Linked DNA regions of Homo sapiens. The protein of the gene in region 1 purifies or fractionates together with the protein of each later gene. This does not show direct contact. Each region holds a gene or a part of one and is shown on either strand. Other genes may lie near its edges.

What was found. The genes of interacting proteins can lie anywhere in the genome.
Region 2: the proteins of ENTPD4 (region 1) and TRDN purify together in Homo sapiens (co-immunoprecipitation; one large-scale study listed by IntAct). This does not show direct contact.
Region 3: the proteins of ENTPD4 (region 1) and PCDHGB4 purify together in Homo sapiens (co-immunoprecipitation; one large-scale study listed by IntAct). This does not show direct contact.
Region 4: the proteins of ENTPD4 (region 1) and PCDHAC2 purify together in Homo sapiens (co-immunoprecipitation; one large-scale study listed by IntAct). This does not show direct contact.

What each region holds. Positions count from the first base shown.
Region 1 is NC_000008.11:23,431,151-23,434,003, forward strand, and holds part of ENTPD4 (ectonucleoside triphosphate diphosphohydrolase 4), read right to left. Parts: intron 2,005-2,853; coding exon 1,776-2,004; 3' UTR 1-1,775.
Region 2 is NC_000006.12:123,500,903-123,504,762, forward strand, and holds part of TRDN (triadin), read right to left. Parts: intron 3,000-3,860; coding exon 2,817-2,999; coding exon of another isoform or gene 2,749-2,816; exon of another isoform or gene 926-2,748; intron 1-925. UniProt on the Homo sapiens protein: Contributes to the regulation of lumenal Ca2+ release via the sarcoplasmic reticulum calcium release channels RYR1 and RYR2, a key step in triggering skeletal and heart muscle contraction.
Region 3 is NC_000005.10:141,393,886-141,397,745, reverse strand, and holds part of PCDHGB4 (protocadherin gamma-B4 isoform 1 precursor), read right to left. Parts: coding exon of another isoform or gene 2,470-3,860; exon of another isoform or gene 963-2,469; intron 1-962. Other genes in the region: PCDHGA8 (protocadherin gamma-A8 isoform 1 precursor), read right to left, coding at 2,509-3,860. UniProt on the Homo sapiens protein: Potential calcium-dependent cell-adhesion protein. May be involved in the establishment and maintenance of specific neuronal connections in the brain.
Region 4 is NC_000005.10:140,965,026-140,969,323, reverse strand, and holds the start of PCDHAC2 (protocadherin alpha-C2 isoform 1 precursor), read right to left. Parts: upstream 2,849-4,298; 5' UTR 2,558-2,848; coding exon 1-2,557. UniProt on the Homo sapiens protein: Potential calcium-dependent cell-adhesion protein. May be involved in the establishment and maintenance of specific neuronal connections in the brain.

The sequences.
Region 1 (2,853 bases):
TCTGATCCCTCAGCAGAACTGCCCCTAATGCTCAGTTCATGGCAATACAGGCCTTTTCTCTCCTGTTTCTCCAAACTCTCCCAGCCTCTGCCCAGTACCTAGTTCCAAAGCCACTTTTATAATATCCTCAGTTATCTGTTATAGCAACAACCCCACTTCTGGGTACTAATCTGCTACCAACTACAGGAATTTAACTGTTCTGGAGTTAGGGAACAGCACACACAGACACTCGCACAAAACAAACTCCACCTAAAAAAACTGTACGAGAATTCCCCAAACTTCTCAACTAAATAAATAGGTGAAAAAACACCAATCTCACATATGCCAATCCAATTGTCCTTTTTAGATTTTGGCTTAAATTGTCGAATTTTTTCCTTCAAAATGTGAATTTATTTCCTGTATTGGATGCAGACTCTTCCCTTCTGGATTTACAGTGGTGCTGCCAGCAACAGCCTCAGTCAATGCGGTTAGGAAGAGGACTCGGCAGGCTGTGCATGGGGTCTCCCAGTACGATTAAAAGCTGAGATGACTTTTAATTAAGGGGGGTGGGGGAAACACCAATTGGAAGCTGGAAGAAACTGAGGCACGATTAAGCAGAAACACTGAGGAATACTGAGCAAGAAGTGGGCATGTGCTCTAGTTCCAATAAAACCGAAACTGGTGAAACTAGGAATTTCCAATTCTTTCAAAACCACAGTGTTCTAATGCCACTGAAATATGGAATAAGGAGCGTAATTACCTGCGGTCAGGAAAAGATAACAGTAACGAGGATTTTTCTAAATAAAATGTACCAGTAAATTCTGAAGTGTGTGTTTTTAAAGAACCAGCATTGCCTCCCCTCACGCTGGTTTCTTGGGATTTTTCACACACTCGCACAAAGCTGTAGTCGATAGTTCACTATCACTTTTATAAATGGTTATCTCCTGGTGCCCATGTTTCTCTGTTTTGGATATAAATGGTTTAAAAAATTTAAATTTGCAAAGAAAACATATACAGTAACAGACCTGAACAATAAATAAAAAAAAAAATCACCCTCTTCAGGTTAGAGCTTTCAAGATAGAGAAAAAAGAGGATTATCATTTCAGGCAGTAAGTTTTTTGGTTCTATGAAAGCATCACTATTCAGTCCCCTCTCCACTGACAGAATGCATCTTTCCACCTCCCTCCAGTATCAAAGTGCATGTGTTTAAATTTAACATTCCTTAGAGAAACCCCAGAAATCTCATTTATTTTTGGCAGATATCCTGTGCAGCAAAAATCAAGTGAATTTCCCTCTTCCCCACTCCTCAATTTAATGCTGTACTCAAAATGGCTAAACGCAATACTTCTAGACAGCAGGGCTTATAAACAATGCATTTTTTTTTTTTGAGACGGAGTCTCACTCTGTCGCCCAGGCTGGAGTGCAGTGGTGTGATCTCGGCTCACTGCAAGCTCTGCCTCCCAGGTTCATGCCATTCTCCTGCCTCAGCCTCCTGAGTAGCTGGGACTACGGGCGCCCGCCACCACACCCAGCTAATTTTTTGTATTTTTAGTAGAGACGGGGTTTCACCGTGTTAGCCAGGATGGTCTCGATCTCCTGACCTCATGATCCGCCCGCCTCGGCCTCCCAAAGTGCTGGGATTACAGGCGTGAGCCACCGCGCTCGGCCTGCATTTTGTTTTTGTTTGGAGGAACAAAAAAGGGAAAGAAAAAACAAAACCACAGGAAAATAAAGAGGAGAAACCCTGAGGCAAAAATGGCTTTTCCTTTTGAGTCTTCGTGGAGCTGTGAGCTGGATCACAAGGTCCCCGGGGCATTCTGGGCGGGAAGGCCCTCCTCCATCCAGAGGGCGGCGGCCGAGCTGCTCCGGGGAGTGCGCCTGTGGATGCGCCGCAGCCGCAGCAGGTACAGCAGGATGGCCAGCAGCACCACCAGGAAGCAGCCAGAGAACAGGTAGTGGTTGTAGACAAAGGAAACGCCCCGCCAGTGGGTGTGACTGGCTCGGAAGGCCTCCTGCTGGATGTCTCTGCCCATGTGAACACCAAACAACAAACAGGACAGTAAGCAAGGAAAGGGGTGGAAAGGGTGCACAGGGGGACGGCGGGACCCAGGCCCCAGAGCTGCACTTTAGGAACTGCAACCCTACCTCTGAAATGGAGAACGGAACAGCCCAATGCAGGGGGCTTCTAAGTATCAGTGAGATAACATGTGAAAGTATACTCTGAAGTCGGTCATTATAATTTGGGCAACCAAAATCAGAGGAATTTAGAAGAGCCGTGAAGGTTTCGCTGATACAAAGAAGTCAACATGTAAACAAACTGCATGCTTGTGATCAGTAACACCCATGACTCACCATTTTTACAGTTAACCCAGTTAAAAGGGTTGCTGAGAAATGCTCAATTAAATGGAGGGGGTGGGGGGAAGAGCAAATGTCTCATCTATCAGGTAACTCAGGTTCTTAGCACAGGTCAACTGACAGCAGATCTGCAAACGTGAATGGGGAAAAACGCACATCTTTGTTCTACCCAAGCGCTGACTGAGATGTAGCATTTCTTTGACCATGAATGCAGACAACAAACTATCATTAGCGTTGGCAGCACCTGCAACTTTGTTACTAACGAAAATCACAGATCTTTCATGTCCCATTATGGTATCATCAATGCCTCAAAATATCATTGACGCTCATTGACTACACTGAAATTACAGAAAGTGCTAATTCTGCTGCCAGATCCTGTTATTTAATGTGTTAATAGAGAAGAACACATATTACAGTATCACAAACTTGTTTTCTGTAATATTTTGGTATTATTTCAATATGATGGTTTCTTCTGTAATCCTATGTATTTATACATGCATTTAAACAGTATTTGGAGAA
Region 2 (3,860 bases), on another chromosome or scaffold:
AGGAGCAAAGTGTGTGGCAGCTGGAAAATTCGTTTCTCCTTCCCCACAGACCTCCTAGAGGTCATCAGAAAACTAGGGAGCAATGTCTGACTATGCCAACTCTTCCTACTCTACAAACAGATTTAGATGGGTTCATAAAAACTAGATTATTTGATGGGTGTGTGTGTGTGTCTGTGTGTGTGTGTGTGTTTATGGTAGGTGTGTATATACATATGCATCTTATCCCTAATGCTTTAAGCAGAAAAAGAGATGTATTATTTCCATATACAATATTGAGAGTAACTACATTGAATATATTCATATGTATACTATGTAATTAAATAATTACTAATAAATATGTGTCCCATGTGAAAATCTGTTTCCAAGTGAGTAAAGGACCTATGAGCCTTATTTCTTTAAAAAGAAGTATTTAGAAATCTATATGAAAAGAATGCCTCAAACATATTAGGTCTAACTTAACTATGTGAATGAGTATTCTCTTGCCCAAAAAGCTAACTCAACAGTTAGCTTAGTTGAGCTAACTCAACTAAGTCATCATATAAAATTTTCAAAACCAAAGCCTCAGAAATTAAAAAAAACTATATCTTTATCTTGCTTAGCTAAAATCATAATGTAATTAGTTTTCTTTAATTTAAAAATGCTCTTAATTAAATCTTTGCTTAGTAACAAAAAATGAAAAATAAAATGACATATTTATATGTCTGATCTGCCATTAGAGGTTAAGTTTTGAATACTTACCTAATGATACATTTATATAATTGATGGCAATTGTTCTCAATACTGAGACTTGCTTTAGCAATTGCAATTGTTTAGCTGATAAAATCACATTTGTGCTTTTGTTTTAAACTCTAAATGATATTTGAATGTCCTTTTAATAGATAAATAACTCTTTGTGTAGAAATAAAAATAGTAGACTGAAAAGGGATATGGTAATATAATGCTGTCTTTAATAAATCTGATTACTGATAGAAATGAAATACAATATTTGTGGCCTGGAAAATAAACATTATTTTAAAGTGTTCCGGTGATGAGTTTTTATCAATAAAATGTGGCTCCCAAATCCCCAAAGATATGAAAAATTAACATCAAAAAATACATTCACATTCCTAGTTGTTAGATAAGTATTTTGACATTTCCAAATATAACTGGCATCAATTTTTACACTCTGTATTTATGGTTAAAAATTAGAATGTACTTTGTAGGTTTTCACTGATTTCATGTGATTATTTTTCTTTTTGAACAGCAATCTAAAGTGTAAAGGATTTCAGGATCTAAGTAATCATACCAGTGAATCCAAAGATTATTTCTGCTGTTTTTTTACCACAGTAAAATATTATATTCAACGTATTTTCTCTTTACTTACTTCATCCTTTTTGTCTACCAAAATATTTCATTAATGACATAATTTTGATGGAAGTAATAATTAACTTTTAAATTTTTTTCATGGTGATATAATCACCTTGAAAATTGGAAAAAGTTTTAGAGCTCCTAAGTTTTAATATGACTTATATCTTAAAATAATAAATTAAAATTATCTAAATTTAAAGGTTTGTAGATCACTAAAAAAAGAAAAAATCTTTCCTTTTTAAAATATATATTTTTAAAATATGTATCTTTTGTCATATAAATCAGAGTTGACAAATACTACATGTGAATCAAAGTTTACAAATGCAAATTCAAGAGAAAAAAGATGAAAATACAGTACGAGTGCATTGCAAATTTCATTTCTTGTGCCTTATGAGGAAAAATTAATTTCAGTTTCATCCTCCAAATAGCCTGCTCTGTAATAAAATTGTAAGATTTCTTAAACTAAAATCTAATAGAAACCAATTCTTTGATACAGTCCTTAGATAACATTAGTCAAAAGTGCTACAAAGTAAAGAAAAATTTGGTTTTGCAATGTCTCCAAGAAACACCAATTACAGGAATAGTCTCTACATGTTAGATCCCCGTATTCTGTAAAGGAGTCTCAGGATTATACAGCAAACTGGAGTCAGGAATGGACTTAGGAAAAGAAACATTCAATAAGGGCCAGAGATGTGGTACGATAAGACCCTTAGTTGCCCTCCTAAACCTTCAGCTCTGTATATTCACATAGCAACCTTCCATAAAATAAAAATTCAGGTTTATATGCCACCTCCATTGAAGTGATATATTTTTGCAAAGTGGGGATGTAAGTTTGACATCACTCTTGCTGAAGAATGGCGAAATATGTCACATTCAGAGCTTTCTAAAGTTAGAAATTTAGTCAATGGAAACTGAAAAAGAAACTTGAGAACTGTCTTCTCTATAACATCTTGCCTATTAAATAAATTTAATAATTGGATGTATATTCTAAATGATGTGCTCTTGCCAATGCAACAGTAATGTATGGATAGTTTTTATGATATTTACTCTATATGATTCCAACATGTACCCCTTCACAAACTCCTTAGGAATTGCTGTCATTTTGGGGGACCACTTTCCTCCAAAGAGTATGACACATACAATCTTTATTCCACCTCTTAATAGACATTCCATATCTCAAAAATTCAACATTTATCCCCAATCTTTATATGATTTCGGATGCTACCTCCAAACCCCTTTTAAAAATACTTCAAAATGCCCCTTTAGATCTGTGAACACATTTTAGTATTTTTATAAATAAATATTAATTCCCAATTTACTGTATTTCTTTTCTGATATATTTACTTTAATGTCTTTTACCCCCATTTGAAGTCTGATTTTGGTCTTTTTCAACTTTTAATTTCACTGCATGTGCTTCTTGCCCAATATTCTCTTAGAACCTCCGGCAGCCTCCTGCTCTGAATGTTTACCTTTCTGTTCATGCTTTGACACAGCTGCTTTCTCTTTGTCCTCCTTTTCTTTGGGTTTTGATGGTGTTTTCTGTACTTCTTTTACTTTTGCAGCTGTTTGCTTCACTTTCTCCTGTTTTCCACCTTTCACTTCCTTTTTAGTCTTTTCTTCACTCTTTTCTGCAGTCTTAGCTTTCTTCTGTTCTGTATAAAGTTAAAAGATGTTGAAATACTTTTGTTTATTTACAAACATAATGTTTCATCTGTACTATGTCATTAAGGAAAATTGGAAAAGAAAGAGGGAAGAAAGGTAAGTCACAAGTGTTTATGTTAAGAACAGTATTTTTCAGGAAAACAATGAAAAATACTGTTCTTAACATAAACACTTGTGACTTACCAGAGTTTTATACAGTTTATGAAGTGCTATATTAGATAGACTACTAAAAGTGTTATGGCTTTTAATTTGTACATGAAAACACTATTTTTTAAGGCAATAGTAACTTAGCATGTCAACAAGGAGGCATTTGTAGCATGCAGGGGATGGATGTACAGGAATTTCTGTGAAAGACAATTTCCATACCAAACAGCCCAGTGAAGTAGTCTCCTTTTATAAGCACATGATCATTTTGCTTGATAACTGAAAGATCTTAAGGGTCATTCAAGAAACTGAAATGCCAACAAAGTCTTTTTTAAAGACAACAATTAGTAATGCAAGTGTAAAATTATCGCATTGGTGTTGACTAACAGAAATAAAACAATGAAATCCATTAGAAGATAACTGAAAGACCTATAGTCTAATGATTTGGCCTTAGAAAAACTGAAAGTGAAGAAATTCAGATATTGGCTCCTGTTTATCTTAAGTCAGCGATAATTCTACTAGTTTTTAAAGCCCTTAAACATATCATGGGAAATTCAAAGGGCTATAAATAAAAATATATATGAATAGATATATAAATTAGAACATATATATATTACACACATATATTCTTAATTTGATATTATCCGTATTTTGGAAGAGGGAACTGTGATGCAAATAACTAGTCTGTGGATCATTCAAGCATCTTT
Region 3 (3,860 bases), on another chromosome or scaffold:
TCTTTAAGGTATCTTTCTCTGTTTTCCAAATTGTTAGAAATATCACGTTGGGTTTTTATACAAACCTGCATACATTGGTCCATTCTTTCACCATTCTGCAAACATACCTTGAACTCTTAGCTAGAACTAAGTATTGCCCTTGTCACTGGCAATATAATAATTAATATGATACAGTTCTTGCTCTCAGAGCCTTCATACTATACTGATTTCAAAAATTCATTTTTTATTAGCTATGGAAACAATTTTATCATTCTTCTGTTCATTTCTATGATTTCCAACTCCCCAATATTTCTAGTGTTTTATATTACACATATTAGGGAAATCTATACTATTTAAAACTATTTTGTAAAGTTGTGGCAATTTTATACCAATCCCCAAACATCTCCTCTTCCTGACTATATTAACATTCTTTATAAAAATAATTTTTCTTTACTCTTCTACTTCAGGAAATATTCATTCAAGTATACTGCCCATATGATGTAGCTAAGAAATGATATACCCTACTACGTTGCTCTTCTTCATATCTCAAAATACTTCTCTTATGTCATATCTTTTACAGTACATAAATTCATTCTTAAGAGTTATTGGGGAAATGCTTATCTATTCTGCAATACAAGGTACAAAGGGATATTCTAGTGGATTGCATTATTATCCTATCTGAAATGACTTTGGAATTGGATAAATGAAGCTCATAAGTTCATTTACATAAATTTGTGGACATTGGTCAACCTTCTTTAGTCCATTTGTCAGATTAATAAAAACAACTAGCCAACATTTTTAGGGAGAGTAAGGATTTTCTTTCCTACCAGGGCAACTTTCATCCGAGTTTTTAAAATTGCAAAGTGCCAATAATATGTTGTCCTCTCAAATGTGCATCCAAATGGTACACAAACTATGAAGTTAACTCCCACTCCACTGAATATGCACCATACAGTAGAACACTACACAATCCTTAGGAAATGTCCTTTTCATTAATAACAAACATTTATTGGGTCATCTACTTCTACCTTACAACAATCAATTCAGGTATTAGCTTTATTCAAATGCTACAAGAAGGTATGCAGGAATACAATAATGGATAGCCTATACCGAGTTTTTACTATTAATATTAGTTTTTTTTTTTTTTGAGACGGAGTCTCACCCTGTTGCCCAGGCTGGAGTGCAGTGACAGGATCGAGGCTCACTGCAACCTCCACCTCCCGGGTTCAAGTGATTCTTCTGCCTCAGCCTCCCGAGTAGCTGGGACCACAGGCGCATGCCACCATGCCTGGCTAATTTTTGTAGTTTTTAGTAGAGACGGGGTTTCACCATGTTTGCCAGGCTGATCTTGAACTCCTGACCTCAGGTGATCCACCCACCTCAGTCTCCCAAAGTGCTGGGATTACAGGCGTGAGCCACCGCACCCGGCCTAATAATAGTTTTTTTAGAGACAGGGTCTAGTTCTGCCACCTAGGCTGGAGTGCAGTGGCATGATCATAGCTCACTGCAGTTTCAAACCCCCGGGGCTCAAGCGGTCCTCCTGCCCCAGCCTCCCAAAGTGCTGGGATTTCAGACATGAGGCACTGTGTCCAGCCAAGACTGAATAACTTTAATTGAATTGATCAGCTTATTTAGAACTTGTGTACCTGAAACATTGGTTCTTAATATCAACATTCTCACCACTTCACATCAATGCACAACCGAAACAGCTAATTGGAATTGTATTGAAATATGTTCTTACATATTTTACAAAAGTCACTTTCAACAGTTTAAAATTACATTTTAATTCAGATCTAATGTTTTTGCTTTTGTTTTTTGTTTGGGGGAGCAATGGACATTCTAGGCTTTAGATTTCATGTCTCCATGGGCATGGAGCCCAGGTGACCACTGACTCACATACTTAATATTTAGTAACCAGTCTCATCTCCCACCAAGATCCATCTTTAAAGTTTGTTCATGTTTTGAAGGATGGTAAGAAGTATTAAAGTTTTGAAGGGCACTGGTACAGAAACAGGGCTCAGAAAAGAGGTTTAAAGTGAAGAAATCTACAAGAGCCTAGTTACAGGTTCAAATGCTAAACATAACCCTAAAAATTCTGAGATATATTTTACTTTTGCTAAGCTAATAACAAGGCTTTAGACTTCTTGATAATTTTCTGAAGTTCTAGTTTGGGATACACACACACACACACACACACACACACACACACACACACACACACACAAACAATAGCAAAATTACCAGTATGGACGGGTAGCTACTTCTTAAGTGAATGAGTGATAATAGGAATAAAATACTGGAAGGCTTAAAATGGTTGAACAATCTTTTCCAAGTCGTTTAAAAGCAAATGAAACAATAACCTATGACTATTAGAGTTCAATTTTATAGTAACACCACCAAAATAAACCCAAAACTCTGTGATACACCTTAAAAATTATTTTCAACTATCTTCACAATGTTTTTCAAAACATAATTTATGCCAAATAAAATTCATCTGGAAATTAAAAGCAAGCAAAGAACTAAACTCACCTGACCATGATCAGCTTCATTCTTATATTCATGAAAATCTACGGATGTTAACAAAGAATCATTTTTCTCACAGCCCTCCTGACTGATGAGCATGTCTGCGTAGTTGGGCTGGGGAAAGATCAGGTGACTCTTCCGCGAGTCGGCGGTGAGGGAGACTTCCTGGGAATAGGTCTGCAGGAAAGCCTGTACCTCCTCAACACCCACAAAATGTGAGGCAGGCACGCCTACCAATCTGCCACCGGAATCCTGGAGCAGGCGTGACTTGTGCCAGCGCCTCAGCCTGAGCCCCAGAAGCACAGCGACAAAGGCGAGGAAGACACAGGAGATGGCAGCCACTGCCACCACGAGATAGAGTGTAAGGCTCGAATCGTTCGGGTCGACCGAAGGCTTCAGACTGCCCAACTCGGTCAGGACTTCGGGGATGCTGTCAGCCACGGCTACGGTGAGCGTGACAGTGGCGGAGAGAGGGGGCTGGCCATGGTCCTGGACGGCCACCACGAGGCTCTGCTTGAGCGCATCTCTGTCCAGCAGGGCTCGCGCCGTGCGCACCTCGCCCGTGTGCAGACCCACCGAGAAGAGTCCCGGCTCGCTGGCCTTGAGCAGGCGGTAGGACAGCCAGGCGTTCTGGCCCGAGTCTCTGTCCACCGCCACCACCTTGGTCACCAGGTAGCCACGCTCTGCGGAGCGGGGCGCCAGCTCCACGCCAGTGGAACCGTCTGTGGGGAGGGCGGGGTACAGGATCTCGGGCGCGTTGTCATTCTGGTCCAGCACGAACAGGCTCAGTGACATGTTGCTGCTGAGGGGCGGGTCCCCGCTGTCGCTGGCTGTTACCAGTAGCTGCAGGTCTCGGATCTGCTCATAGTCGAAAGATTGCAGCGCATACAGGACACCGGTGTCAGAGTTGATGGAGATATACGAGGACAGGGGCGCCCCCTGCAGCGTGTCCTCGGTCACAGAGTAAGTGACCTGGGCATTCTCCTGGCTGTCGGGGTCGTGTGCAGTCAAGGAAAAGATGGAGGCTCCTCTCAGGTTGTTCTCTAGGATATACGCTGAGTAGGAGGCATGAGGGAAAGTAGGAGGGTTGTCGTTAATGTCTGCCACGTGCAGAGCGATTTGAGTTTCAGTGGACAGAGGTGGTGTTCCTAGATCTGAGGCCATCACTGTGATATTGTAGATAGAGACATTTTCTCGGTCCAAATATTTCCTTGTCACTAATCTATAATAATTACCTATTGACTTTTCTAATTTAAAAGGTAAATTATCACGTGTGTAACAGACAACTTGACCATTCTTTCCAGAGTCTTGGTCATGCACACTCAAGAAGGCAATTACTGTCCCGGGAAGAGAATTTT
Region 4 (4,298 bases), on another chromosome or scaffold:
GAGAAACAGCCTCATTTTTGAGAATAATCAGGTTCCCAGCATTCTGACCACTTTGGCCTGTGAGATTCCTGCTGTCAGTCACTGCTGCTTGGGCTCCCGAAGGCCCTGGTCCTGTCTGGGCCCCTGTATTGTAAAACATGAAAGTGTCACTCCCTGAGCCTGCTGTCAGACAGGCCTTGTAGCAGTAGGTCTTGGTGAGGGAGCCATTCCCTCGAACTTCAATGAAGTGAGGCTGCACTTTGAGGCCATGCGGTATCCTGGCATCAATATTGTTGTTGGCTTGTTTGTACAGTTCTGCAGGGGACCTTTCCCTTACTCCACAGAAGCCTCCACAGCATGCAGTGCCATACGCAGTGTAGCGGTAGCACTTGATGATGCTCAAAATGATGATTGTCAAAAGAAATATAAAAGACACTGTGCTTAATGCTATTATTAGATAAAGGGTAATTTCAGAGTATGTCCGAGGGCTCTTAACATGCCTCTGAGTGTCAGGGAGGATTTTGGAAACCCTATCCACCACAGCTACTGTAATGGCCACAGAGGCTGATAGTGATGGCTCTCCATTATCTCGGACCACCACGGTCAGGTTGAAAGTGCTACCACTCTCATCTCCCATCTTCCTGGTAGTCCTAATTTCTCCTGTGTGCAGCTCTACCTTAAAGAGGTCCAGGTCAGAAGTCTGGGCTAGATGGTAAAAAAGCCAAGCATTTTGCCCAGAGTCTGAGTCCATAGCTATGACTTTGGTGACCAGGTAGCCAGCAGGGGCAGTTCGAGGCACCATCTCGAAGGCTGCTGACGAGTTGGTTGAGGTAGGGTACAGAATGTGAGGGGCATGGTCATTCATGTCCACCACATATACGTTGGCAGTCACAGTGCTGCTCAGTGGTGGGCTCCCCTTGTCCTGAGCCTCCACAGTCACAAAGAACTCCCGAAACTTCTCATAGTCAAAGGAGTTGACAGCATAAAGGCTGCCACTGGCACTGTTAATGGAGACATAGGAGGTGACTGGCAGCCCTTGAATCTCCCTCTCCAGAAGGGAGTAGGTCACCTCTGCATTCTCCTTTTCATCTGGGTCTGTGGCTTGCACAGTACAGAGCAACACACCTGGCAAATTGTTCTCCTGTATGTAGATGGAATAGGAGTCCTCCAGGAAGCTTGGTGGATTGTCATTGATGTCAGAGATCTCAACCTTCAGTGTACGCAGGGATGTGAGCTGCGGTATTCCCCCATCTGTGGCTGTCACCGTGATGTTGTAGACAGCCACCCGCTCTCGGTCCAGTGGGCCGCTCACCACCAGTGTATAGGAGTTTCCAAAGCCATTCAGTCGGAAAGGCAGTGTGGCCTCCAGACCCAGGCTCACTTTCCGGTTGGGGCCTGAGTCTTGGTCATTGACACTGAGAACGGCCACAATGGTGTTGGGTGTAGCATTCTCAGGCACTGGGCTATACAGGTCCGTGAGCACCACCTCTGGGGCATTGTCATTCACGTCCACGATGTCCACCAGCACCTTGCAGTGACCTGCCATGGGCACTGGACCCCGGTCAGTCGCCTGCACATAGATCTGGTAGGAGGAGGCTTCCTCATAATCCAGCCCCCCAATTACTCGCACTTCCCCGGTACTGGCATCTATGCTGAAGAGCTGCCTCTCCCGGTCCGACGTGTAGCTGCTCAAGGAGTACCTGAGCTCACCATTGGAGCCCTCATCCGGGTCTGAGGCATTCAGCTTCACCACCAATGTGCCTGGGGGTGAGTCCTCCCGTAGCTGGACGCGATAAGTGGACTGGTCAAAGGCAGGAGAGTTGTCGTTAGTGTCCAGGACACGCACAGAGATCTGTGCCGTACCCGAGCGGGCTGGGATGCCCCCATCCACGGCTGTGAGAACCAGGTGGTGCAAGGCTGCCTGCTCCCGGTCTAGGCCCTTACGCAGCACCAGCTCAAGCACTTTACTGTTCTCCTGCAGGGGCTTAAGGTCCAGCTCGAAGTGCTCGCTGGGGCTGAGCTCGTAGGTCTGTACTGAGTTGGCGCCCACGTCGGGGTCCTGCGCACTCTCTATGTGAAAGCGCGCTCCAGGCGCCACCGATTCGCTTACCTGAAGCTGGTAGTTGGGCCGCGGGAAACGCGGTGAGTTGTCGTTGATGTCCAATATTTCCACCTCAACGGCGCTCACCGCCACGGGGTTGTGCGCCAGCACTTCCAAGCTGAGCAGGCAGCGAGGCCGCTGCTCACACAGCGCCTCCCGATCAATGCGCTCGTTGACGAAGAGCGCTCCACTCGTCAGGTCCAGCTCCAGGTAGCGCGGACTGGGCGCACCCAGATGGTTGATGCGCAAGCAACCCGGCCCCAAGCGCCGCAGCTCAAGCCCCAGCGCGCGAGCCACGTTGCCCACGAGCGCGCCGGGTGCCTGCTCCTCTGGCACAGAGTATCGCAGCTGGGAGGCCGCAGGGCCAGGTAGCAGCAGCAGCAACAGCAGCAGGAGAGGCAGTAGCAGCAGCCAGGGCATGGGCCGCCGGAGCCGTGGATGCTCTGTCGCCGCAGGTCTGGTGCCCGCCTGCTCCATAGCCACTGGCCGCGGCGGAGGCAGCCGGGCAGGGCCGGAGGCGGCAGCTTCCCCAGCCGTGCCCCACGCCCGGGCCCCGCCTCCGCTCGTGCCACCCTGCGCCTGCTCCCCCACCGCTCACGCTCTAGAAAGCGCCTGGGGCCGCTCCCTCCGTAGGCCCTCCCAAGGGCTCCTGGCCCCACCGTCCTCGCTGACTCCCCATATTCCAGCTCCTCCGCTCGCCTCCGAGTCGCTCAACCCGGCTCGGCTTCCTGCTGCTGCTGCCGCTACAGCTCCAGGGGGAGGGAAAAGGAAACAGAAGGGAAGACAGAGGGGGAGGGGGAAAGGGAGCGGTAGGAGGGCTCAGCAAGTCCTGCTCTGATTCCGCGCCGAAGTGGCGGACAGCGAACCCGGACTGCTCAGCCTCTCCAGCCCCATCTCCTTCACCCTGGACCTGCCGGATCCCAGCGGACCGCAGGAACACGGCCACTCCCTTTCTCCCTACCCCCACTGTCCAGTTCATCCAGTCTCCACCGTCTCTCCCCTGCTTAACGGGTCTTTAAGGAGATTAGTCTGGGAAAAGCAGTCAAGCCCCTAGAAGTCTGGCTATCAGCTCCCCAGGAAAAGATCTCCAAGCGCAATTCAGGAAAATAAACTGAGGGGCCTTAGCTAAGTATGGGCACCCAGGCGGCGGATCTAACATTAAAAGGAAACAACGCAGGGGGAGGCGCTCTGGGGTTACTGGCGATGGGAACTATTCACCTGACTCCCACATCTTCCCTGGACACTCTTAAGTACTGCAGAAAGTGCTCAACTCCTAGGGCAAAAGGAGGGGGATGGCAAATGCTGCCCTCTTTCCGGGAGCAAGCCTAAAACCAGCATCCTGGGATCCAAGACTCAATTCTGCTCTCGGCCAAGTGGCCCTTATTTTCAGTGTGTGCCTTGGCAAATAACCAATATTTAAATGTTTAAAATGCTCTGTTTAAAAAAATAGTCTCCATGAAGCTGTAGGCAAATCTATTATTTGACCCATTTTGGCGACAATGGGGAAAATCTGGTAAAATTTTTAAAGAGATTCTTCTCTCAAGCTTTTTCTAATCTTGCTTCAAATCTTTTACATTTATCACCCAAGACATTTTCTTTCAAGAGTAATTTAAAATTTTTTCTTTAATGGATGACAATGTCTTCAAGAGTCTGCAAAACCATTAAATCAAGAGCGTTACTGTTGATCTCCTAAGCCAGGCTGGAATTTGGATTCCATTAATGCTTTGCAGTTAAAAAAAAAAAAAAATCTGCTGTCATTAAGCAAAATGTGGGAGTCTGGGATTTATCTTACAATAACCAGCAATTTCAATGACTGCAGCTTATCTTCCTTAAATATAAGACTCCTTAGACTTCTGTTCTTCTGTGTCCCCAAGTTTCCTCTTGTACTGCTATAGAGGCAACACAGAGACAACAAATTCACTTCAGTAAAAGAGAAGGTAGAAGGATCAGAGGAAATCTTTCCATGCTGTGTCATTGCCTCTGCTGCTCAGTTCTGAATATTCACTCTTCCCAGGTTCTCACATTTCTTCCACAGGAATTTGAAATCTATTGCCTCATGTGCAAAAAAAGCACTCACTAAAACGTCCTTTCTCTTCATCTCCCAGTATTCTGTCATCTGTAGATCTTCCTCTATGGGTCATTTTCTAGCTATGGACTGGAACAAAGTCAGAGTGAGACCTGACATTTGGCATGCTTCCCTCCTAGAGCGGACAGTTAA